Linked DNA regions of Homo sapiens. The protein of the gene in region 3 interacts with the protein of the main gene of each other region in a pairwise test. Each region holds a gene or a part of one and is shown on either strand. Other genes may lie near its edges.

What was found.
Region 1: the proteins of DRD2 (region 3) and TSPAN3 interact in a two-hybrid assay, tested with the Homo sapiens proteins (one large-scale study listed by BioGRID and IntAct).
Region 2: the proteins of DRD2 (region 3) and PIGG interact in a two-hybrid assay, tested with the Homo sapiens proteins (one large-scale study listed by BioGRID and IntAct).
Region 4: the proteins of DRD2 (region 3) and GABBR1 interact in a two-hybrid assay, tested with the Homo sapiens proteins (one large-scale study listed by BioGRID and IntAct).
Region 5: the proteins of DRD2 (region 3) and RTN3 interact in a two-hybrid assay, tested with the Homo sapiens proteins (one large-scale study listed by BioGRID and IntAct).
Region 6: the proteins of DRD2 (region 3) and TSPAN7 interact in a two-hybrid assay, tested with the Homo sapiens proteins (one large-scale study listed by BioGRID and IntAct).
Region 7: the proteins of DRD2 (region 3) and GABBR2 interact in a two-hybrid assay, tested with the Homo sapiens proteins (one large-scale study listed by BioGRID and IntAct).

The regions. Positions count from the first base shown.
Region 1 is NC_000015.10:77,047,110-77,050,609, forward strand, and holds part of TSPAN3 (tetraspanin-3), read right to left. Parts: intron 1-3,500. UniProt on the Homo sapiens protein: Regulates the proliferation and migration of oligodendrocytes, a process essential for normal myelination and repair.
Region 2 is NC_000004.12:505,710-509,209, reverse strand, and holds part of PIGG (GPI ethanolamine phosphate transferase 2, catalytic subunit), read right to left. Parts: intron 3,493-3,500; coding exon 3,283-3,492; intron 1,806-3,282; coding exon 1,617-1,805; intron 382-1,616; coding exon 240-381; intron 1-239.
Region 3 is NC_000011.10:113,423,399-113,426,898, forward strand, and holds part of DRD2 (D(2) dopamine receptor), read right to left. Parts: intron 1,285-3,500; 5' UTR 1,254-1,284; coding exon 969-1,253; coding exon of another isoform or gene 965-968; intron 1-964. UniProt on the Homo sapiens protein: Dopamine receptor whose activity is mediated by G proteins which inhibit adenylyl cyclase. Positively regulates postnatal regression of retinal hyaloid vessels via suppression of VEGFR2/KDR activity, downstream of OPN5.
Region 4 is NC_000006.12:29,630,384-29,634,493, reverse strand, and holds the start of GABBR1 (gamma-aminobutyric acid type B receptor subunit 1 isoform a precursor), read left to right. Parts: upstream 1-1,310; 5' UTR 1,311-1,644; intron 1,645-1,711; exon of another isoform or gene 1,712-1,797; coding exon of another isoform or gene 1,798-1,812; intron 1,813-2,108; coding exon 2,109-2,193; intron 2,194-2,892; exon of another isoform or gene 2,893-2,894; coding exon 2,895-3,098; intron 3,099-3,104; exon of another isoform or gene 3,105-3,850; coding exon 3,851-4,036; intron 4,037-4,110.
Region 5 is NC_000011.10:63,684,500-63,687,999, forward strand, and holds part of RTN3 (reticulon-3), read left to right. Parts: intron 1-3,500. UniProt on the Homo sapiens protein: May be involved in membrane trafficking in the early secretory pathway. Inhibits BACE1 activity and amyloid precursor protein processing. May induce caspase-8 cascade and apoptosis.
Region 6 is NC_000023.11:38,568,042-38,571,541, reverse strand, and holds part of TSPAN7 (tetraspanin-7), read right to left. Parts: intron 1-3,500. UniProt on the Homo sapiens protein: May be involved in cell proliferation and cell motility.
Region 7 is NC_000009.12:98,383,936-98,387,435, forward strand, and holds part of GABBR2 (gamma-aminobutyric acid type B receptor subunit 2 precursor), read right to left. Parts: intron 1,838-3,500; coding exon 1,705-1,837; intron 1-1,704. UniProt on the Homo sapiens protein: Component of a heterodimeric G-protein coupled receptor for GABA, formed by GABBR1 and GABBR2. Within the heterodimeric GABA receptor, only GABBR1 seems to bind agonists, while GABBR2 mediates coupling to G proteins.

The DNA.
Region 1 (3,500 bases), on a different chromosome or scaffold from region 3:
AAGCTTCAGCTTCCCTCCCAGGAACTCTTCGTAAAGCCAGCAGGGAATCAAGTCTCTCTTATTTGGCATCCCCACTACTAGTCTAGCGAGTGCTGTCCGAAAGAACTTTCTGCAGCGATGGAGACATACCACATATGCACTGTCATGTGGCCTCATGTGACTACTGAGCACCTGAAATATAGTTACTGCAACTGAGTTGCACTTTTAATTTTATTTAAATTAATTTAAATGTAGACACATGTGGCTAGTGGCTACCATTCTGGACAGCAAAGGCCTGGGGAGTAGAATGAGCAAGAATGTGTGTGTTTAATAGTGGTCTTTTCAGGTCTTTTGGTTTTTGGAAAACGAAATTCAGTATGTGAATAGCCCTATGGTAGAAAACAAATTCTGATGCCAAAAAAAATGTAGTTGGAAGGTTTTTTGTTTCCTTCACATTCACTATTTTTGAAATCCACGGTTCTGTGGTATTACATACATATTACTTTTGAAAGGTCACTCTTCCGTCATCATTTTATTTCAATAAGTCCTAAACCTTCTGTGGTAGCATATTGGAATAGTAATAAAGTCATGCCATGTTATTTTGGATAAGCAAAAGGATTAAGCTGGATTAAAGAGAAAATGATTCTAGAATTTTTGACCTACCTTCTCCCAAAATATAATTTTTTTGTGAGATAATTTGCTGTTCTAACTTCTCATTGATGAGGAAAAGCCTCAGTTATTTGATTTTAAAAGACAGGGTCCTCTGTACATTTGGGGGTCAATCTAATTTCCGCAAAATGTACCCAATCCATAAACAGACTCTCAAAGTTTGAAGTGGAAGATTAACCACTACTAAGACACACATACACATAAGGATGTCCTCAATCTGAATTCTCCATGGTATAAAGTCACCCACTCCAATTTCTACCCTCACATTAACCTATATTCTGCCCATTCGGGATATATATTTCCTGCTCAAATCCATCAGTTTCACTATTTCACCACTTGCACCATTTGCACCATTTCACCATTTGCAAAGCACCTTAAACACACTTAAGAGGTGAATATTATTTAAAGTTTACTAAACAATTTAAGTCAATTCTAGACCGATGAAGTACCTAATTCCTAGAGAAATACATTTCTGTTCTCTGTACATCAAAACATTGTTAGAACAGCTATAAACTCAAATGCAATTATGTTCTCAGGCAATGTTAAATTGAGCAATAAAAATGCTAAGCTCAGAAATGACTGGTTTGCTAAGGGAAAAAAAATCTCTCTTCCCACCCCCACCTCCCCACACTCCTTTCAATTGGTTAACTTCTATTAGAGAAGCCAGCATTCTCAAAATGAGGTCTGAAATAAGTATTTCTTTCCCAATTTGTTTATTTCAATGAAATCAACTTGTATTGATTTTAAAACAAATAAACTTGATAAAATTCTACTCATGCTTGGGAATCAGTCTGCTTAAGAATATTAAGCTCTACATAATAATTTCTTATCCTCACCATTAACTATTACAGGCTCATTTCCAAAGGCCTGCTATACTGAAATTCCATTGATTTTTGAAACATTCCAACAACATACTTGGAAACATTACACAAATATTTTATCTCCAACATTATTTCTTGCAATGAAATACTCTCTTGCAATATTCAAGGCATGAGAATTAAACTTCACTTAGCCCAAATATAACACCCAGCAACTGCAAAAATTGAAAAAAATGACTAGTGGTGATTAAAAAAACTGACTGGCAAAGTAAAATGTTCTATGATATACCATGTTGCTGGTGGTATGGGGAAATAGGCATTCTTATACAAAAATAAGAACTTTTGCACATTAGAAACACTCTTTTCTGAGAAAAAATTGGAAATACCTATCAAAATTCATTCATACATTCTGATACTGTAATTTCATAGTTACAAATTTTTGCTATAAACAGCCCATCAATATTGATTAAAGTATGCCTATAAAATGGAATACTATGCAGACATGAAATTAAAAAGGCAGATCTATATCCAAAATACACTAATTTGTTTTTAAGAAGGTACAAAAGGTTGCAAACTATATGAATTCATTTATATAACATTTTGCAATGTTGGCCAGGGTGTGAGGGGAAGGAGGAGGAAGTTTCTCATTTTAACGAATAACTGGTAATTGAGGAGGAGGAGGAAAGAGCAGTCTCCACCGGCTTCACATGCGGCACAGAGACCAGAAAAAAAGCAACATGGCCTTGGGAAACAGTTCTTTATGAAATCTGCTCTTGATCGTTCTATCTTGAGGATATGCCAACTTCATGAGACCCCAAAGTAAAGACTTAGAACATTTTCCCCGTATTGCCTTTGTAGAGAGACAGCCTTACTCACAGCAGATACTCAGGAGCTTGACAAATCAAAATCTAGATTTTTGTCAATTATTATGACCAGATTCTTTAAATATAAAATTCATAATTGATCATGAGTTAAGAGAGTGGCTACTCTCAAAGAAGTGAAATATCCTGCTAATTAATAAGGGGTACATCAAAATTTTTAAAACCTCATTCTTTTATATTCAAAAGTCCTGTTATTATAATTAATTGGTATTTTTCAGGTTTTTCTTTCTTGGTCACTTTGGTCCTACCCAAATCTAGATTATTTAATGGACTAGAGCAAGAGTCACCAAACATTTTCTTAAAGGGCCATATCATAAATATTTTAGGCTTTCCAAACCAAGACAAAAATCAATCAATATTGTAACTACTCAACTCTGCCATCTTACCTCTGTATTTTATCCAGCTAAAGTGTCAATTAACTGTCAGGTTTCCTGACAAAATTTAGGAATTTAATCTTCTGCAAATCTTATACTTGTAATTGGAGGCAGAGTACAAACAAAGGCAGGGGTCTCTAGAGTTGACACTCTGTGTGATGGTCATGCCACACTATCCTTGCTCACCCAAAATTTTGTGGCTAAACAAAGAGGGCCAAGACTGGAGACTCTCCAACCATCCTCTCCAGCTCTAAATGTCTATATTAGGATCAGTGTATAAGCACAAAAGCTCACTGATCTTTCAGTTATTTCTGCCTTTGTTCAGGTTTTCCACACCCAGGGCACCAATCTATCAGATTTTGAATACCAGAAGCTTAGAATGTTTACAGGTACTCTTAAAAACAATTAGGGAAAATTATTAATTCAGATAAATTTTCTCCCCTTAAAACCCAAGTTTTTAAAATTTTCAAAACCACTAGGTTTTGAGTCTGTGAAAGCTCTGAATCCCTAAACTTAAGCAGCCTTGCTGAAGTGAAAAAATCAAGCTTTATCAGCTTTTACTTAAGTCAGGGTGACTTAAGTATAAAACACATATGGCAGTCATATTTAAATTAAGAGACTAGTTAAAATATTTATTAGCCCCTATTGAAAAATATTTAATAAAGAAATGTCTGGCAGGCTAAGCCGCTTAACTAGATGAGGGACATAGCTAAAGTGATTATTTTTATCAGTCTTCTATATACATGTTGCATATTTCATGACCACAAGTACCATACAGT
Region 2 (3,500 bases), on a different chromosome or scaffold from region 3:
ATCCAGGCAGCAACATTCATACAACAAAATTCTGACAAAGAATAACTGTATTTTAAGGATTCGGGAAGGAACGTAACTTCAGATCCCAAAAGCCTTTTGCCCAATTACTTTTCATGCTCACATTGCTTGGGGACTTCAACCTTATGGAGCTTCTAAAAAATAGGTTTTCAAAATTAAAACCAGACTATAGAAAACAAATGTAATACAATTTCCAACTGTTAACATTCCTAAATTCTCACCGGGTTTCCTTTCAAACGCAGAACTGATTAAAATCAGAGGTGTATTCACCTCCTCGGTGGAGGAGGCCCCGTGACTTCCTGTTTCAGACATGCCATGGTCACCACAAAGAACCAGCAAATTGGGTAAAGGCGTCTCTCTCTCCTTTAAGGCAAAGGAAAAACATTTCAACTGCGTTCAGACTGAAGAGAGCACATCATCTTAAGAAGACAATTTTCGGTTTTAGCTTTACTTTATAGAGTTGTAGCTCTTTCTCAATGAATTAGATTTTTTTTTCCTATGAGCTCATAGCCAGATCACAGGGTCACAGTCAAATAATGCCATAAATGAAGTTCACAGAATTGTACACAGCTCATGGAGCACAGCAGGCTGCATTTCTGCCCTCTGATGGCAGACGGTTTGTATCTGGTTTCTGTCTTTGCCACTGCCAAGCTGTGAGACTCTGGACGCATTCTACTCTGTGCCTTGGTCGCCTCATCTGTCAAATGGAATCTTTCACAGGACTCTGGTGAGAACACAACACACAGCAAAAGGCAAGAGCTCTGAGCCATGTGGGGGCACCCACCAGGCTTCTCTGCCCCTGGGGTTGCAGCCACACATCCTTTGCTGCTCCGGGACAAGCCAGGCAGGCTGTGCCTGACCCTCGCTGCTGGTCCTCCTGGAACACTCGTGCACAGACCACATGGTCTGCCCCTCCCTCCCTTCAAGTCTCTGCTCACCCTGCACACGTCTTCAGGGAAGGCTTCTCTCAACACGCTGTTGAAAGCCCCTCCTCCTGCCCTCTGAGTTTCTGCAGCACCCATCACCTCCTCACATACTTATTTACTCATCTTTCTCATCTCTCCTGGCTAGAGCGTGAGCTTCACGAGGGATTATCGACTGTTTCACTGATGCACCCAAATGCATGGACAAAAAGTGACATAGAACAGAAACAGAGACACAGAACAGACAGAGTGACACAGAACAGAGACAGTGGCACAGAGCAGAGAGAGTGACACAGAACAGAGAGTGACACAGAAGAGAGAGTGACACAGAACAGAGAGTGACACAGAACAGAAAGTGACACAGAACAGAGTGGCACAGAACAGAGAGAGTGATACAGAACAGAGAGAGTGGCACAAAAGGTCTTCAGGAGGTATTAGTTGAATGAATGCATACACGGGTAGGAGTGAGAGCTGCTGTTCTGCAGGGCTGCTGGAAGACGGAGTCAGTGCAGTGGACACTGAGACAGTGCTGCCCGTGTGGCATGCGGCCCCTGGCTAGCAGACTGATGGTGGACATTCACACAGGCACCCTGAATAACTCAGGCGGTTGCATTTATTCTAGGGAACATCCACGTGAAACCACATCAGCAGACAGTGAGCGACGGCGAGCCTCACCTTCGACTGCAGTGAGGTGTGGATCTTCATCAGCACGCTGTCCATCTCGCTCAGCTTCTGCCCAATCAGGGGGCTGTTGGGCCCTGAAATGTGGCCAATGTGGTCCAGCCCCAGGTAGTGGAGGATTAATATGTCCCAATCTCCTCTTTTTAATACTTTATCCAAATGCCTCGTGACATTATTATCCACCTTTGAAGGGGAAACACACGTATAAACAACTCACCTAATTTCCCTGGATCTTCACTCCCCGGGGAAAACGCAACAGTCATCTTAAAATCTAGGGGTTTATTCAGGTTACAGGATTTGGGGGAGTTGAAACACAACAAAATCTATGTCATTAAAAATAAATAAATAGGCTGGACACAGCAGCTCATGCCTTTCATCTCAACACTTGAGGAGGCTGAAGCGGGAAGACTGCTTGAGGCCAAGAGTTCAGGACCCACCTGGGCAACATAGCAAGACCCCACGTCTATAATAAATAAATGAACATTAGCATTGGATTAAACTTTTGCTAATATTGTTTTTATGTTTCTGGGCTATGGATCGAATATATTCTACAGATAATTTAAATGAGCAAGGGTTCTTCTGACAAAAATATTTTTCTGTGGGATCACTGCTGGGCTTAATGGGCATAACTGAAGGTGAGCAAATGGGCAAGTTAAATAGATCCCAAGTTGTCATGAGGTAACTAAGGGCAAAGGGCAGTTAATTAAAGACAGGACAGTACCCAGCGTTAAAGTAACCAGCAGGATGATGAAGCTGAGGGCATCTACATGTGTCCTACAAGAAGGCTGTTCTGAAAAAGACACAGCACTCAATGATCACATTGATTTCTGAAATAAACACATCACGGAGGAGAGATGAGCAGTTGATCAGCCCCCAATAGAGCTGTCAGCCTGGTGAGCCCTGACCCCTCAGCTAGCTCATCTCCCTCCCACTAAAAAAATCTCCTATGAAGAGAAGTGTTTCTCAGTGATGCCATATATAGTCAGGAAAACTCAGTCATTACTGAAAAGTAACTGTTGAAAAGCGCCCCACTTTGGAACAGGATAGGACTACAGATGCTCCATAAGGCCCAGCCATCTAGGAGGTGAAGCTGGCTAAACCCCAGGCCAGGCAGGTGTGCTGGTGTGCTCCTACCTCAGCCCCAGGTCTGCTTTCTAACATGCAGGTCTAATTTTTGTTGGAAAAGCTCCAGGAAAACCCCCTCAGGACCAGGCCCCACCCAGTCGGCCACCTGCCCTCAGGGCACGATGAGGCTCCGCTTGCAGCAGAACCAACAGGCTGTGGAGTCCTACAGCTCTGCCATGTGCAGAAGCTACCAGCCTGTTCTGCCCACCTGGGGAGTCCCCACTCACCCATCATATCTCGGCTCAGACAGTCCCTTGGCTGTGTCACCCTTCCTGATCCTCTCTGCCCCTCAATGGCACTCAGCTGTTCTAAGCTTTGGGTTCCATAAAACTCTGCTCACACCTGCTTCAGGTTTGTATTTCTGGGTTGTTAACTGATTATGTGAGTGAATAATTTTTACACCTGTCCATAGTACTCCCTATAAATTAATAAAACCAAATATAAAATGGTATCATCTCTCACTAAGTAATGGGATGCCAGGCTCTATCTAGTATGATATTCTAGTATGATATATTTTCTTATTTTAAAAACTGACCTCTGTGTAATCTGACACGAAAAATGAGGTTGTTCCATCATATTCCACAAAATGCTTTGGGAATAATTTAACCCAGGTTTCATCTCCATAAAAGACTATTCTTTTTCCAGCTGCTTTTGCTTGTCTTATCACACTGTCTTCCAGCAGTGCAGGAGAATTGAGGTTCCTGATGACGTCGACAAAGCCAGGAAGGCTCCCCGTCATCAATGCCTGCAGTC
Region 3 (3,500 bases):
CCAAGTATCTGGGATTACAGGCATATGCCACCACACCTGGCTAATTGTTGCATTTTTAGTAGAGATGGGGTTTCACCATGTTGGCCAGGCTGGTCTTGAACTCCTGGCCTCGTGATCTGCCTGCCTCGGCCTCCCAAAGTGCTAGGATTACAGGCGTGAGCCACCGTGCTCGGCCTGTTTCCTATTTTGTAAAGTGAGAAGAGTAGCATGGACTCCCAGGGTTACCAAGAGTATTCACTGGGTCTGTGTCAGCAATGCACCAGGCACAGTGTCTAGACTGTGCTGCCTACTCCCCATTTTGAGGTGCAGAGCTGGGCCAAGAAATGAGTGACTACACAATTCTTCCTAACAAAAGGGCTACAGCACAGTCCATGGCAGCCTCTACCTGCAGGTCCTGGACAGGGCCCCAGGATAAGCTGTGGGAAGGAGAGGGGATATGGGGAGCATAAAGCAGCAGACCCATTTCTGAAGTGGGGAGATGGGAGTGAAGGTTTCAGGGGCCTGGGAGCATAAACATGCCCCTCCTTGGGGATCCTTGCCGGTTACTCCTATTTCCAATATGACCTAAGGAACTAACTCTGAGGCCAGAATTCCAGCTTGGACTTGCCAGCCGTGTGATGCTGCAGCAGTTACTTAACATCTCTGACCACCTGGTTTATCAACTGCAAAATGGTGGCAATAATGCCAGCCTCTAAGCTGCTGTGAGGGTTATATAGGAAAATGCTATATTTAAAGTCCCTACGTGAGGCCCAGCACTTAGTAAGCACTTTACAAATGGTAGTTGGGATTATTAAGGAAACAATCTACCCATTTCGTAAGGAGAAAAAGTAAGCCCAGAGTGAAGGAAAAACCACCTGGGGAAGCACCAGGAAACTCATTGGTAAAAGCCAGTGGGGAGCTAGAGTCCCCAGTGTCCAGTGCAGGGCCCTGCTGGAGAAAGTGCTGGAGCAAGCAGGGGGCCCACCTACCTCCAGGTAGACAACCCAGGGCATGACCAGTGTGGCGACGAGGAGGTCGGCCACTGCGAGGCTGACGATCAGGTAGTTGGTGGTGGTCTGCAGCGCCTTCTCGCGGGACACAGCCATGCACACCAGCACGTTGCCGAAGACGATGACAGCGATGAGCAGGGTGAGCAGTGTGGCATAGTAGTTGTAGTGGGGTCTGTCCGCCTTCCCGTCTGACCCGTTGAAGGGCCGGCTCCAGTTCTGCCTCTCCAGATCATCATCATACCAGGACAGATTCAGTGGATCCATCAGGGCGGTGGAGCCACTGGGTGGCCAGGCTCTGGCCAGGAAAAATGGACACAAGGTGTCAGTGAGAGGGCCTCTTGCAGAGGTCTCCAGGAAGAAGACCAACTCCTGGCATTTAATAATGAGAATTTTCCAACTCGGGATTTTAAGGTTTACGGCTAAGAATTTTCTAAAAATGTTGGGCCTTCTGCCACTCTTTTGCTAGCAAGTTTTTACAGCTGGTAGGACAAATGAGCAAACACAATTTTTTAAAAATGCATAATAAGATGAGCTTGAACAGAGCTGATCCATCATTTATTTATTCATTCAACAAACACTTCTTAAGCACGACCCATGCACCACACACTTCAGTTAACCAGGCTTGCTACCTTCTAGTCATCGAAACAGAAATGGGTATTCATTCATTCTTGATTCTATAAATATTTATTAAGCATTGTTCTATATAGTTCTAGAAATATAGGCAGGAACAAAATATACATGGTTCTGTAGCTCACATTCTAGGAGAAACAACAGCCAATTAATCAAGCAATTACATCTAAGGGTGATAGGGAGTAGGAAATGGAACAGGGAGAGAGATACATAACCTAGTTCAGGTATTCAGGGAAGGCTTTCTAGAGGAAGTGATGTTCAACAGACAAACAACTGAAGGATGTGTAGGAATTAGCCAGGTAAAGAACTAGGAGTCAGCAGAAGGTCTAGACATTGGAAGCAGTATATGCAAAGCACAGAGGTAGAGAGGTAGACAGCAGGTGGAGGGCCTCAAAGAGATTCTGGATAGCTGATGCAGAGGGACCTGGCAAGGGTTGAGTCTGGGGAGGTTGCAATAGGCAAGATCATAGAGGGCCTTAAAAGTCATGCTAGGAGTTTATACATGATCCTAAGGGCAGCAGGAACCACATGATCAGATTCGCCTTTCGAATAGGTGATTCTGACAGCACTGTGGAGAACGGAGAGGAGGGGCCCAGAGTGGAAGCGGGACACCAACTGGGAGGCTGTAGCAGGAATCCAGGTAAGAGATGATGAGGTTTGGCAGGATGCAGGGAGTGAAAGCCCTGCAGAATGGGCATCTCATCCCACAGAAGGGAAAGACTTCCTGAAGTGGGTATCATCTGGGATGAAGTAGAAGGAGGACTTAGCCTGCTAAATGAGAGGGGTGGGGGGATGTTCCAGACAGACAATATGACATGGTATCAAATCATCAAACAGCAAACAATTCTGTTTGGCCAAAAATGTAGGGTATGGCAGTAACGTTGAGGATAATTAAACTGCAGGGACATTTACAGGCCAGATTGTGTCTTGTCAGCTGGAGAGTCCCTGAGAGGTTGGGCCCAGAGACATGACCCTATTGGACTGGTGTTCTAGAAAGTGTATGGTGTAGAAGAGAGCTCAGAGGAGAGTGATGTTTTGGCTGTAATTTAGGTTAGAAATTGTGGTCATCTGAACGAAGATAGTGGAAACGAGGATGGAGAGACCTGTTCAGAATTAGGAGCTAAACTGCAAGTCAATTTCATGGTCCTTGGTCCTTGGATAGGTGTGGGGCAAAAGTGGGTATGGGACAAGCAGGGAGATAAGGAGTTGAGGGTAATGCTAGGATTTCTGCGTGGGGCTCTGGGAGGCTGGTGTCGCATATTCACAGAGAAAAGGGACCAGAGGGGCTCAGGAGCAGACTTGGGAGGCATCAGGAGTTGATGAACTTGACAGCCGGAGTTTTGGTTGTGACTGAAGCATAATGCATGGATAATATAGTTGGCTTTTCAGCTAACAAAAGTCTTCCTCTTTTACAGAATAGAATTAAACTTATCAGCATTCCAAGGTGTTTCATACAAAGCACATGACTTCCAGGTACTTTGCTACTGCAAATTGAAAACCACCAATTGATGCCATTTGGGATGAATGTGGTGCCATGTCCAATCAATGAACAGGGCACACCTCCAGCAATGGGTCAGAGAGGATGGTGGAAGAGGGTCTGCCCAATCTCCACACTCTCATCCCTGTCTGACACACCCACTCTTCCAGCTTTAGTAGAAGAATATGGATCATGTCCTACCAACCACCATCACTCTGGAGCCTCGGGGAAAAGCAAAGTGCCTAATTCCATGTGGGGTGACATGGAATGCCACCACGCAGCAAATCTTCCTGTTCTAAGGTAATGAAGCATATGTCATATTGATGCTGTATTCTGCAAAACCAACTGAGCCCTCTTCCCATTTGGAGCCCACAGCGGGAGGCCTGCATGTATGTATTGATCAG
Region 4 (4,110 bases), on a different chromosome or scaffold from region 3:
TCACCCAGGCTGGAGTGCAGTGGTGCGATCTTGGCTCACTGCAACCTCTGCCTCCCGGGTTCAAGCGATTCTGGTGTCTCAGCTGGGATTACAGGCGCACACCATCACACCACGCTAATTTTTCTATTTTTAGTAGAGATGGGGTTTCGCCATGCTGGCCAGGCCAGGCTGGTCTCAAACTCCTGAGCTCAAGTGATCAGTCCGCCTCGGCCTCCCAAAGTTCTGGGATTTCAGGCGTGAGCCTCATCTATGAATCTCAATTTAGGACAGTAAAAGTGTCATTACAAAATATTTATTGTAAAAAAGGGTTGGAGGTTGAGAATCTCAATTCTAGTCAGTCTCTCAGTGTTTGGTTTCTTCCTACCATTTTTCCCCCTAGGACCAGCCAGAAAGCAGCTTTTTTTTTGTCCCCCCCAACAAGGAGCCCACTGTTTCCTCTCCCAGCCCAAACTCAGGCCTACGAACAACAACAGCACAACACACACACACACACACACACACACACACACACACACACACACACACACCCCTCCACTTCAAGGTATAGCCAAGAGCTTCTGGAGCCGTCAAAAAGGTCTGTACCTGCTGTCTTTAGAGCTTCCAGTTTGCCCTTGGTCAAGAAATACTGTTTGCTAGGCTCTGCTGGAGTACATCAGGTAATACTGGCTTCTAAACCACCCTGAGGTTCTTTTCTCTTGTCCTTTTACTCCCTTCGTACTTCAATTTCTCTCCTTGATGTCCCCCTCCCTGTTTTGTTTTTTGCCTCCAATCCGTTCTGCGCGTTCCCTGCAGAGCAGGCGAGTAGCAATGCTGCTGGACCATGGAGCTGCTCTAGTCTCCCAGAAATCTCTTCTACACCCAACCCTTCTTGCGCTTAGGTGGTCCTCAGTCCCCCTCCCCCACCTCCTTCTGACCCAGGCTTCTTTCTCGCCCTCCGGTCGCAGTTCTCCTGGGCATCTGCCTCTGCCTCTCTCCTCTCACCCGGATCTAGGGCTGCCTTCTCTTTGTGCAGCCGTCTTTCTCCACCTTCATCCCAGACTCCCTGTCTCAGCGCCAGCTCCTCTGCCTTTGGCTCGGGTTCCCTCTCCCCCACCCCAGCTTCCAGTTGTTTGGCCCGCAGGTCCCTCGGCAGTGACCGGCGCCCCCCGACGAGTGCGTGTGCACCAGGGCACCTCCCTCTCCCCCACCTCTCAGCCCCGCGCCTCTCCACCGCCCGCCCCACCGCGCTGTGGGCGGTCCAGGGCGGGGCTGGGATCCGGGGCGGCTCCCGGGGCTCGGGTTGTGGGAGGCGCCCTCTCCCCGGTCTTCCCCTCTCTTCCCCCCGCCCTGCCTTCCCTTGCACCCTCCTTCTTCCCTCCGCCCGGGAGCTCTCCCTGGTCCCCGGCGCCGCCTCCTTCCCTCCCGGCTCCCCGCTCCCCGCTCCCGTGGCTGCCGCCGCCCCGGGGAAGAAGAGACAGGGGTGGGGTTTGGGGGAAGCGAGAGAGGAGGGGAGAGACCCTGGCCAGGCTGGAGCCTGGATTCGAGGGGAGGAGGGACGGGAGGAGGAGAAAGGTGGAGGAGAAGGGAGGGGGGAGCGGGGAGGAGCGGCCGGGCCTGGGGCCTTGAGGCCCGGGGAGAGCCGGGGAGCCGGGCCCGCGCGCCGAGGTAAGAGCCAGGGCCCCGGGTTAGCAGGGCTCGGAGAGGGGGCGCGCGGCGTGGTGGGGGAGGGGGCAGTGGGCGCAGGGCCCAGCTGGGGGAAGCGGGGCTGGGGGAGAGGAGGAACCGCGGGGATGGAATCGGGGAGCGCTGAGGCGGCCGATGCCGGGAGCGTGGGTAAGCCAGGCTTCTGCGAGCCGCGGGGGCCGGGGGAGAGGAGGTGGTGAGAGGTGGAGTCCCGGGAGGGTTGGGGGCCGAGGGAGGCAGGAGGAGGGTGGGGACAGGCTTTCTCTCCTCCTCTCCCCCCACCCCGCGCGGGGCTCCGCCCCCGCCTCCTCCGCGGGGCGCTCTCTTGGTCCCCAGGCTGAGCCCGGTCGGAGCCTGCGAGGCAACCGGCAAGAGGTCGAGTAGTCTCCGGGTGCGGGCCGCGCCGGCGGGGCTCGGTCCAGTCCTCATGGCCGCCTCTCACTTAGATGTTGCTGCTGCTGCTACTGGCGCCACTCTTCCTCCGCCCCCCGGGCGCGGGCGGGGCGCAGACCCCCAACGCCACCTCAGAAGGTGCATCCTTCTTCGACGACCTCCGGCCCTCCTTCGCTCCACTTCCCTTTCCCTGCATCTCCTCATTTCTGGTCCTCATCACTATCCCATCAGTCCCACATATCATCCCGGTCTGGCAACCCCTTCTGCTCGGCCCGACTTTACTACTGCTGACCTCCTTCTGTCACCCCACGTTACTATCCAGCACCTCTTTTCTCTGCCCACATTGCTACACTATACCACCTTCCTGTGCATTTTCTCCGCCTCAATCCCCTTTCCCAGCCCCACATTACTACCTCAATTACTCCCTTTTCTTGGTCCCACTTTGCTGTCCAGATGATCTTATTAGCCTCCCTTTATCCTCCTATCCTAATTCAACTCGAATATCCTCATTTAGCCTTTTTTTTTAAAGAAAAGCTCCACCCACATATCATACCCTTCATGATTTCTTAATTACTTTTCTTTCTTACCTCCACCCAGCACCCTTCCCTCCCCACTTGTGGGTTCTCTCATCAGCTTTAACCCTGGCCCTTTACTCTCTGTCCTTTAGCCAGGGGATCTGTACCTGTCCCCACTCCCACCCTCTAGTGCCCCATCCCTCTTCCTCTGTCCCCAGCCTGCCCACAGACCACGCCCTACTCTCCCCTTCCTCCCACTGGGGAGCCTGCCTTTTCCTCTTTCCCACCATTCCTCTCTGTATGCCTCCCCGACTCACCCCTTAGGTTGCCAGATCATACACCCGCCCTGGGAAGGGGGCATCAGGTACCGGGGCCTGACTCGGGACCAGGTGAAGGCTATCAACTTCCTGCCAGTGGACTATGAGATTGAGTATGTGTGCCGGGGGGAGCGCGAGGTGGTGGGGCCCAAGGTCCGCAAGTGCCTGGCCAACGGCTCCTGGACAGATATGGACACACCCAGCCGCTGTGGTGAGTAGCCTCGGAAGCCCCTCCCCTCTTCAAGACTATTCCTTTTCCTGCCGCAAACTTAGCATTACTGCTTGCAAGTCAGCACTTTAAATCCAGTATACCAAAATTCACAAATACATTTATTGAATGACTACTACATAAGAGCAATTTTGCTCTGTGCGGTTGGAGGTAGTAGAGCTAGCAGCCTGCACAGTTCATTTCATCCTCCCTTCATTAGGCCACTGATCATTGGCCTATAACATTGATAATTCATCTTGTCAGTTATTCTCTTTGAGGATCATTAGTGGCAGATGATGACAAAAAAATTCTAAAATGATTTCATCACATTTTTGAATACCTCTGTCACCAACCCAGAGACCATATGCCCAAGAAACAAAAGCCAGTTTAATATTAATAGAAGCCAACTATAATAAGAAAAGCAAATCTGATTGTGCATCCAAAGTTATATACATCTACATATTTCAAAGCCAGAGAACCGCCCACTGTAGCTGACTTTGAAGAGATCCCATTTTGTGTGCTTATAGCCCCATCTTGGGTTCCTAAAATGGTAATTTTTTTTTTCTTTTGGGAATGTGTGGATGCTTGCACAGGTAAGGGAGGATTGGAAGATAGGTAGGCAAATCCTTTTCACATGTGATTTTCTTTAGAGCAGGATGCTTGTGGACCCAAACCTGCACCTGAGTCCCCTGCTCTTTAAAGGGAAAGAGCCTTCTTCAACTCGCCTCTCTTCTTATTTTCCTATCTCTCCACAGTCCGAATCTGCTCCAAGTCTTATTTGACCCTGGAAAATGGGAAGGTTTTCCTGACGGGTGGGGACCTCCCAGCTCTGGACGGAGCCCGGGTGGATTTCCGGTGTGACCCCGACTTCCATCTGGTGGGCAGCTCCCGGAGCATCTGTAGTCAGGGCCAGTGGAGCACCCCCAAGCCCCACTGCCAGGGTGAGGGGAACAGCTGCCTGCATGCAGCTGATGAGGACGCTTGTGTGAGGATGGGAGTGGGGTGGGAATGGATA
Region 5 (3,500 bases), about 50 Mb from region 3:
CCAGGCTGGTCTCAAACTCCTGGCCTCATGTGATCTGCCCTCCTCGGCCTCCCAAAGTGCTGGGATTACAGATGGGAGCCACTGTGACCAGCTTTACCCATTATTTCTTAGTAAAATTTTATTACAGAATTTGTATTTCTTAGATGTGCTGTAGACACGTATCACTATTAGCACTTAAAACAGTGATATATAGTAGTACTTGGTAAGTATTTGTTGAATAAATTATCAAATTTACGAGCTAGAAAGGCACACTTGAGAAATAAACTAAAGAGAAACTCTTTTTGGAGTCTCGCTCTGTAGCCCAGGCTGGAGTGCAGTGGTGTGATCTTGGCTCACTGCAACCTCTGTCTCCTGGGCTCAAACCATTCTCCCACCTTAGCCTCCTGAGTAGGTGGGATTACAGACATGCACCACCACGCCCAGATAATTTTTGTACTTTTACTAGATATGGGGTTTTGCCATGTTGGCCAGGCTGGTCTTGAACTCCTGACCTCAAGTGATCCGCCCACCTCGGCCTCCCAAGGTGTTGGGATTACAGGCATGAGCCACTGAGCCCAGCCAAGAGACTCTTATCTTAAATGCTTATCCATTGCAAATGTGCATTCATATTGTCTAAAAAGCACTAATACAGTTTTGGTGGGCCCAATGCAAGATCCTCATTTGTTGGGTCACTACTTGAACATAAAAGTTTACCTTAAGATACTGCAGTGTGGGGCCAGGCACGCTTGCTCACTCCTGTAATCCCAACACTTTGGGAGGCTGAGGTGGTTGGATCACCTGAGGTCAGGAGTTAGAGACCAGCCTGAACAACATGGTGGAACCCTGTCTCTACTAAAAAATACAAAAATTAGCCGGGCACAGTGACGGGCACCTGTAGTCTCAGCTACTCGGGAGGCTGAGACAGGAAAATCACTTGAACCCAGGAGGCGGGAGTTGCAGTGAGCTGAGATCACACCATGGCACTCCAGCCTAGGCGACACAGCAAGACTCCATCTCAAAAAAAAAAAAAAGTTACTGCAATGTGTTGTAATCATTTTTATTGCAGAAGCCTTTCCTCCTTGCTGGATGTTTTTCTTCATGTCACAAAGGAAGTGTCTCAGGCTTTTGCACCATGAAAATAAGATGAAGTTTGTTATTCCAAAATTTAACTTATTTAAAATGTAGATGCTAAAAAATTACCTTAATTGTTTAAAAAAAAAATCTGTACGTATTGCTGTCATCCTCCAGCTTCATGTTCTTTCACCAAGCTCCTCTTGGTTTTGGAGACTTGTCTTGATTTTAGTTAAAGAAAAATAAGTGATTGGTTGGTGTCCTACAGAAAACAATTTTGTCTTGACTGACCTGTCCAGTAATTAATTTTAGAAGTATTAGTTACTATATACAGGTCAAGAATGAGTGATGGCACTCTGTACTTTAGTGCCTTAGGTTCTAATGCAGCCAGCAATGTAGTATGCTTAGAGATGGGGATCAGGGGTCAGGATGGCTTCCCAGATTTCTGCCTTTGAAGGAAACTGAAGATATCAGAGGCAAAAATTTGAGGTTGAGGTAAAAGAGACTGAAATATTCAGTGTTCATTTCAGAGCAAGAGTTGCCTTTATTAGGCCTCAAGTATAGAGACACGTCTATCATCTGAACTTTAAAAGTACTTTAATAGTTTACTGATGACACGATGTTGAAATTCTGTAACTTGGCCGGGCACGGTGGCTCACGCCTGTAATCCTAGCACTTTGGGAGGCCGAGGCAGGCGGATCACGAGGTCAGGAGATCGAGATCATCCTGGCTAACATGGTGAAACCCTGTCTCTACTAAAAATACAAAAAATTAGCCGGGCGTGGTGGCGGGGCGCCTGTAGTCCCAGCTACTCGGGAGGCTGAGGCAGGAGAATGGCGTGAACCCAGGAGGCGGAGCTTGCAGTGAGCCTAGATTGCACCACTGCACTCCGGCCTGGGGGACAGAGCGAGACTCCGTCTCAAAAAAAAAAAAAAAAAAAAGAACAAATTCTATACTTGCTAGAGACTGCTTTTTATTGTTGTTATGAAAGTTGGCTGAGTCTGGTGGCTCACACCTGTAATCCCAGCACTTTGGGAGGCTGAGGTGGGTGGCTTGCTTGAGCTCACGAGTTTGAGACCAGCCTGGACAATAGTGGTGAAACCCCATCTCTACAAAAAGACAAAAAAGCAAGAATTAGCTGAGCATGGTGATGTGCGCCTGTGGTCCCAGCCACTTAGGAGACTGAGGTAGGAGGATGGCTTGAGCTGGGGGCAGAGGTTGCAGTGAGCTGAGATTGTGCCATTGCACTCCAGCCTGGGTGACTGAGCCAGAACTTGTCTTAAAAAAAAGAAAAGAAAAGGAAAAAAGAAAATCATGATGCCAAAATAAAACTACATTTTATATGTTTGTTCATGGAAATTAGCTCAAAGCAAAAACAGCTTGGGCAATTTTTTGAAAAAGGTTTTGCTTTAAATATTTCTTTCCTCACTCATGAAACTTAGTTGTTCTGTGTACTTTTTATGGCTTCATTTTCACACTTTGTTCTACCATATTAATCAAATGTGAATATGTAATTTGTGTTTTGAGTTAACCCTTAAATAAAAAGGAATGTGGCCCCCGTCCAACACTGACATCATCTGAGTGTTACATTCGTGTCAGATTATCAGTGGCAGTGTAATGTGTTAAAACACAGACTTGAGCTCCAGGAATGCCTAGATTTCAATCCTGGCCCTGTCTCTTAATAATTATGTGATCTTGTGCAAGTCCTGAGCCTCAGTTTCCTTAACTTGAAAATTGGGATAATAGTATCTATCTTGGAGTTGGTATGAAAATTAAACACAATTTGGCTGGGCACGGTGGCCCACGCCTGTAATCACAGCACTTTGGGAGGCCAAGGCGGGTGGATCATCTGAGGTCAAGAGTTCGAGACCAGCCTGGCCAACATGGTGAAACCCTGCCTCTATTAAAGATACAAAAAATTAGCTGGGTGTAATCCTGTAATCCCAGCTACTCAGGAGGCTGAGGCAGGAGAATCACTTGAACCCAGGAGGTGGAGGTTGCAGTGAGCCAAGATAGCGCCATTGCACTCCAGCCTGAGCAACAGGGTGAGACTCCATCTAAAAAAAAAAAAAAAGTGAACACATTTATAGGGCTTAACACAGTGTCTTGCCTGTAGTAAATAACTGTACCATTAATGTGAAGAAATGAAATATAGATCAACAATGTGACCTAGACACATTTGCTTTGTACCCTTAAATCCTGACCTTTATTAAATAACAATACCTAATGTTTGACATCCATTTGTAGGTTACAAACTACTTGCACATATTAATAGATACCACATAGCAGTTCAAGTACAAATGAGAAATCTGTCTTCCTCACAATCAAAGACTATTGTTATGCCTTTTTTCCCTTTCCACATGTGAGTCAGTTGTTTCAGTTTGTGGCCCTTCACATTAATGTCATAAAGCTGCCACCCGCTTCCACTGAGGTGGTCTGTTAAAGAGGTA
Region 6 (3,500 bases), on a different chromosome or scaffold from region 3:
ACGAAGACCAAATTAATATTGCCAGTACTAGGTTAGATACTCCGTAGCTACCTGCAGATCCAGGAGGCTCAAGTGAACCAAGCCTACTATTATCTACTGAGTTCTCCCTGGATCAATGTTTCTCAATCCTAATTGCACAGCTGAATCACCTGGGAGCATATTTTAGCATATCAATTCTGGCACTCTGTCCAGACCAGTTGAATCAGAATCTCTTAGGATGGGGTCTAAGTATCTTCTTTAGGGCCCCTTAGGCAATTCTATGGGCAAACAGGGTGAGAATCACTGATCTAGTACCTATGTCTGTTCACCAGTACCTGTGTCTGACTCATCTCATCATCCTCTAGTATAAGGCACCTGGAATTTCTCCTAGAAACAGATGATGATGGGAAAATCCCACTATATCTTGCAGAAAGCACCAAAGAAAATCTTCCAGAGTCAAAATGTGATGTTTAAACTATTTTAAATGCTTTACACTAAAAGCCCAGACTTCACCACTATGCAATATATATATGTAACAAAACTGCACTTGTATTCCCTAAATCTATAAAATAATAAATGTTTCAAAAGGCAATAAACAAATAAATAAAATGCTTACCTGTTTAACTGATCAAATAACCAAAAGGAAAAACAAAACAAAGAAAACCCTCTCCTTTTTCCTCTACATCCTTTTCTTGATGAATAGTGGGGTTCTGCAGTAAGATGAAAAAAATGTTCAGCCAAGAATGAAAATCATTCTGTCATGGCAAGGGGAATAACAGCCAAAATAAGAAATTTAAGAGCAGCATTCCAAAAATCTGCTTGCAATGAGGAGGTAACTCAGATTGGAAGCTGCTGTAATGGAACTAAAGGAGAAAAATACATAAGAATATATTTTTAAAGTGTGTTTCAAATGGGTTTAGCAGTGCATTAGTCATCTATGTCAAGAGTTTAACATGTTTAAACAAAGAAACACAGTCACAATGACTTTCAATTTTCAGCACCTTCTGAGGTACTTACTTAAAGCAGTATATAAAGAACAATCACTGAATAAGTAATGCAACTCACAATAAGGTCAAATCAAGAACTCTAGTTGTGATTAGAATGGAGAAGAGTATTTCATTCTATTTAGACCAAAATTCAGCTAATTTCTAAGCAACGACTAAGTGAAAAAGACTTAATGTTCCCCAAATGTTATAAAAGGTAGTTCACACATCCTAACTGTATATTGCGTATAGTAAATTAAGTTGATAAAATAAGAAAAAACTCCAGATTATAATGTACAAGTCCCATAATAACCATGAAGGGTTATCACTGTAGTAAAAGAAAAACAGCCAAGCAATAATCAGTTTAACATCAAGGTCCTCTCCCCAACACACACACCACACTATAAACACTAAATTAATCCAGCAAGGTCCGAATTAGGTCAGAAGACACATGGGACTTCATCTGGTGGGAAGAAATAAGAGGGGCAGAAAAAGCAGCAGCAACCTTCAGAGCTTCATTTCCATTTGTCCAGTCGCTGATGACCAGACGACCTTACAGAGGATGTGTCTTAGTAAGTCTGTTCCAACTTAGAACACTTCCCTTGAAATCCAAAAGCTTTTTAAAAATTGAAAACTGGGTACCAATATTTATTAGAATAGCCCGACTATTGCTGTTTTAGATGCTCTATTCAATCACTCACAATCAACTGGGTATTTAATTAGTACCATCTGATGTAGAGATAAAGATATAAAGGACTTCCAGTTAAAGATGACGGATTGAACACATCCATTTACCCTGGCTATCTCCCAAAACTCCACTGAAATGACACTAAAAGAATGTTTTTAACCTACAATAACAAAGAGAGGAGACAACCACAATGATCTCTTCAAAGCTGAGAAAAAGCAAAATCTTATGGCAGCTGTGAGAGAAGCACAAAATAAAATATTTGCACCCAAACATCCCCAAAAGACTCAGGGGTTAGCAGCTCCATGCACACCTGGAAGTAGGGAGGAAAGGGGAGCTAAAATAAGTAGGTTCCAGTAAGAGTTTTTCGAAAAACAATTAGATTCCCCACCCCCACCCCCGCCACCAACTTCCTGTCTCTGGCCTCTACTCATTCTACTATAGGTTCAGATATTTATTCTTTGGAGGGTGAAAGAGATGGTCCCTGAACTGGGGAATATAAGCACAGTGGACATGGATTCTACACTGGAAACAGGAGCTTAAGCAAAGGTTTATATACTGTATATAGAGACTTCTATATTCTCACCTTCTTTACTCAGAGAGCAATTAGAAGATTCTTCTGTAGGATATCTGATGAGACCAAAAGAAGAGACCTAAAGATATTGACCTTGGTCCTAAAACTCAACTGCCCAGCCAAATCACCCAAATTACAATTGATAAACACGTACTTCAGGCTAAGAGCTTCCAATCAGCTTCGTAGTGCCCCCTCTTAAACACGTACAGAAAAAAGAGCAAAACATGACCAGAAATTTGAGGTAAGCCTGTAATATGCCAGAAAACAGAACAGTCTGAAGGAAACTATGCAGGAAGAAGCAAACTCAAAAAAATTACTAATATTTTCAGAGAGATATTAAAACTATATTACACTCATGAAACAAAAACAGGATGCTAGAAAAAAAGAACATTCAGACCTCAAAAAGAAGCTTCTAGAAATTAACATATGAAACAAATGAAAAATGCAATAGCAGCAAGATAAAGTGGAAGTGATCTCCCAGAAATAGAACAAGAAGAAAAAGAGGTAGAAAATAGAAGGGGAGAAAATTAGAGGATTAGTCTAGGAGGTCCAACATCCAAATAGGACAGAAAAAAATGAAGGTAAAGAAAACAAAAAACAAAAGAAAATTTCCCCAAACTCAAGGACCAGATTGAAAGGTATACAGAAAATTTCCAGATTGAAAGGGTACCCAGGAAATAGTTTAAAATAGACATATACCAGAGCATATTGTTGTGAAATTTCAGAGCAAGCAAGAGATCATAAGAACTTTCAGAGAAGAAAAGCAGGATTCAAGAAGAATCAGAATAACATCTGATTTCTCAACACCAACAACAAGAACAAGACTTGGAATAGGGAGAAACAGAAAAATTCTGAGGATAAATGATTTCCAAACTACAATTCTACACTAAGCCAAATGATCAAATTAAGTGCAAGAGAAAAATAAGATTTTCATACCTGTAAGAGCTCAAAAAATTAACCCCCAATACATCATTTTTTCCAGAAAATTATTAAACTTGCTCTACCAAAATGAAAAAAAAAAAAACACCAAGGAAGAGAAAGACATGACATCTCAAAAACCGAGGATCCAACGTAAAAGGAGACAGGATTCACCAGGATGATGGTGAAGGGAGACTATATTGATGTCCACTGTTTCAAAGGCCCAGAAAATACTAGTCCAGATTGAAGATCAGAAAGCTTTGGGAGAAATGCCTCTGAGAACAAGAATCTGATATGACACATGAAGTGTTTGAACAGACTGAGTGAAGAAACAGATCTTGGGGAAAGTACAGGGATAAAT
Region 7 (3,500 bases), on a different chromosome or scaffold from region 3:
GCCTTCAGCCCTCATCATCCAGCAGTGGGCAACACTGAGGCTTGTGAGCAACAAATGCAGTCTAAAAAAGGCTGCTTTGCAAAAAAGGGCCCACAGTGCTCTCAACGTCTTGAAAGAAAACAGCACCAACAAAGGAGTGGCTTTTGGATGAATCCACTCAGCACCGATCTTTTGACCATCCCCTCTAGCTCTGGTCTTCCAGGCAGGGGACTGGATGAATTACTGCATGTGGGACTCTAAAGAGACCCAGCTGGCTAACCCCATTTGGACAGATCATAGTCAATGTCCAGAAATACATCCCAACTGATTACTTTATTCTTAAAAAGTAAGTTCATGATATTTTCAACTGAGAGTTAGTTCCATAAAACTATTAAGTGATTGCTAATACATAACCCCCTTTAAAAAAATAACTAGGGAGGCCGAGGCAGGCAGATCACCTGAGGTCGGGAGTTCGAGACCATCCTGACCAACATGGAGAAACCCCGTCTCTACTAAAAATATAAAATTAGCTGGGCATGGTGGTGCATGCCTGTAGTCCCAGCTACTCAGGAGGCTGAGGCAGGAGAATCACTTGAACCCAGGAGGCGGAGGTTGCAGTGAGCTGAGATCATACCATTGCACTCCAGCCTGGGCAACAAGAGTGAAACTCTGTCTCCAAAAAAACCCAAAAAACAAAAAAAAATAAAAGGCATTTCTTTAGGCATTAAACTTTTTAACATGTTAATTAACTTTAAAAATAATCTTTCTAATGTATAGTAAATTAGTTACACTGCTTTGGACTTCATTAAATATATATATATCTCAATAGGGATGATACAGCCCCCTTGGGGGCAACTGTTGGTTCTTGAATGTGAAGAAACATTACTCTTTTTTACGTATAAACCATAGATATATATATAAAGTACACAAACAGATATACATTACATTTCTGGTATTAAACTTTCATAAGAGGAATCATTAGGAAAAAATGTCTAAAAATGCTCCTTAGGGGAACAATAAGGAAAAAACCGTTGAAGAAAACACCACTTAAATAGAAAATAACAATTATAGCTTTTACCATATAACTCAGTCAGACATACAAAGATCTATCGTCATATTCTTTGATGGTTTTTGAGGTAGATGGGAGGATCTGTTCCTTCTTAAACGATCCTGACCCTGACTCTGACCCTTGGCGCTGATGCTTTTCTGGAAGATAATATTTTTCCCCTCCTTTTCTATGTTACTCTGTCAATTCTCAGTGGGCTCTCTTCTAACAGTGGCCTGGTAAGTCCAGTATCTTTATTTCCGAGACAGGGTCTTTCTCTGTTTCCCAGGCTGGGGCACAGTGACGCGATCACAACTCACTGCAACCTTGATCTTTGGGCTCAAGCAATCCTCCCTCCTCAGCCTCCTGAGAAGATGGGACTACAGGTGTACACCAGCATGCCTGGCTAATTTTTTTTTGTATTTTTTGTAGAGACAGGGTTTCACCATGTTGCCCGGGCTGGAAGTCCATTATCTTAACTTTGTAGGTGGTATTTATACCCAGTGATGGCCTGACAGTAACACCGTTCTTCCCTGTTGAGTTGAAAACTACTAAATGGGTTGTTCCCTGCCTGTTCATGTATTTTCATGTATTTCTGGGTTTGCATCTGTGTTTTCGATGACTGAGGTCACCAAGGAAACTTTCTATCATATACCACTGGCTTATGCAGAATGACTTACGGTGCAAAGTGTTTCAAAGGTCTTTTCAGAGACAAAGGATCCATCAAGGCCAAAGAGAAATATGGAAGCATAGGAGAGCATCCCTCCAAGGATGATAAGGTTGTTCATGTATGGACTCGACATCTTTATGAGCCTGACAAGAGAAAGAGACAATAGATTTAACAGAATGGTTAATTTAGTTATTCCTTCAACAGGTATTTTCTAAACGCCTGCTAGATATATATTGTTGCTCAGGCTAGAGGGGAGAGAGAGAAACAGAAATACGCCATGGGGCCTCAGGGGACACATCAGCAGGAAGTCCCACATTTCTAGTCAGATTTTCCCCAACACCCAGGTGCTCACTCTGGAACCTTCCCCTTACAGAGAAATAATGAAAAGCTCTGGTTTCCTCTACCCTCCTCCCCACCTACTGTTTGTCCTTCACTAAAAGACCTCAGACAACTATATATTTCTAATTGTTGATTTCCCTGCCTCCTTTGTCAAGTTCACCTATTACTTCCCAAGGGACAGCTTGTCACATCAGCTTCTTCATCCATTAATTTTCAGTTTAAACAAAAGCATTAAGTCAACAGGTTTTTTTTTTTTTTTTTGGCTGGAACTAAGAACTCATGTCAAATCTAGAGAATGTGACATGTAACTTCAGCCACGTTCCCCACAGTGAGGAGAAAGTCCCATACCACACTCCCCAGCCTTGAGTAGACCATGTCAAGGAGGCCTAACTGTGAGTCTCAGGGTTGCTTAGGAAAGCTCACACTGTTCCGTGCACAAAGACAGCCACACATGTGGGCAGGAATACCTCTCCCAGTCACCGGGTGACAGAGGGAGACACCAGAGTCCGCAACCCACCCACTACCCCTGTCTTCACTAGGCTGCAGTGGGGAGCAGGGAGCATTCTTTATACTTCCAGACGCTGCATCCTTCTCTGTCATTTCCTCCCGGAACCCTGTGGTGGCCTCCAGCTGCCCAGCAAGCCAGGGTCATCAGTGGGCTTGTAGGTGCCTGGCCCCCCCAGCACAATCAGCTCAGAAGGGCTTCAGGTTTTAGGCGCCCTGTGGTTGAGGGGCTCTTTTGCAGACTGTAATTACAGCCAATTGTTCCCCAACATTTTCCTTTGCATTCTCCAGTTCTGTTAACCCTTCACATTTTAAACATGCAATACGTCAAAGGGAGAGGGAAATAAGAAGCCTGCTGCTCTTCCTCTGTGAACTGCACCCCGGCTTTCAAGTTGGGAGCAGGGGGTCCAGGGCTTAGACTCGGCCACTCCATAAAAGTGACACCTTGACAAATCACTTAGCCTGGCTGAATTTCCTCACCTGTATAACTGATCCTGTTGCCTTGGACACACATGAAGCTGAGATGACGCTGGGTCCTTGGAGGTCCTTTTGTAAACCGTGAACTACTTAGGTGCCTCAATTCTTATTACTACAGCAGTCAGGGGAGGGGAGAGCCTGGGGGTTGGGGCAGGCTTCCCAGAGGAGGTGGGCCTTATAGGATGGATTTAGGAAGACAGAAGTAGGGGGAGGGATTGGGAACCATAGCAATATTTTTTTTCTATCTTTCTGCAGATTTTTAAATAGCCAAGCCAGTTAAAAAACAAGACAAAACAAAACAAAAAACTTCACCTGGATGCCAGCCTCTTGAAAAGAGTAATGGTAACTTTCCCCCAGGAGGCCAAGAGGGGGTAGTTAAGGAATTCAATGAGTTTAGTCTTATGATGGGGCAACTTGCTGTCCTGATGGGACTTCTCGAGGCATCTGGGCTGTCAATCTAACTTTGAGAGCTGATTATGTGCCCAG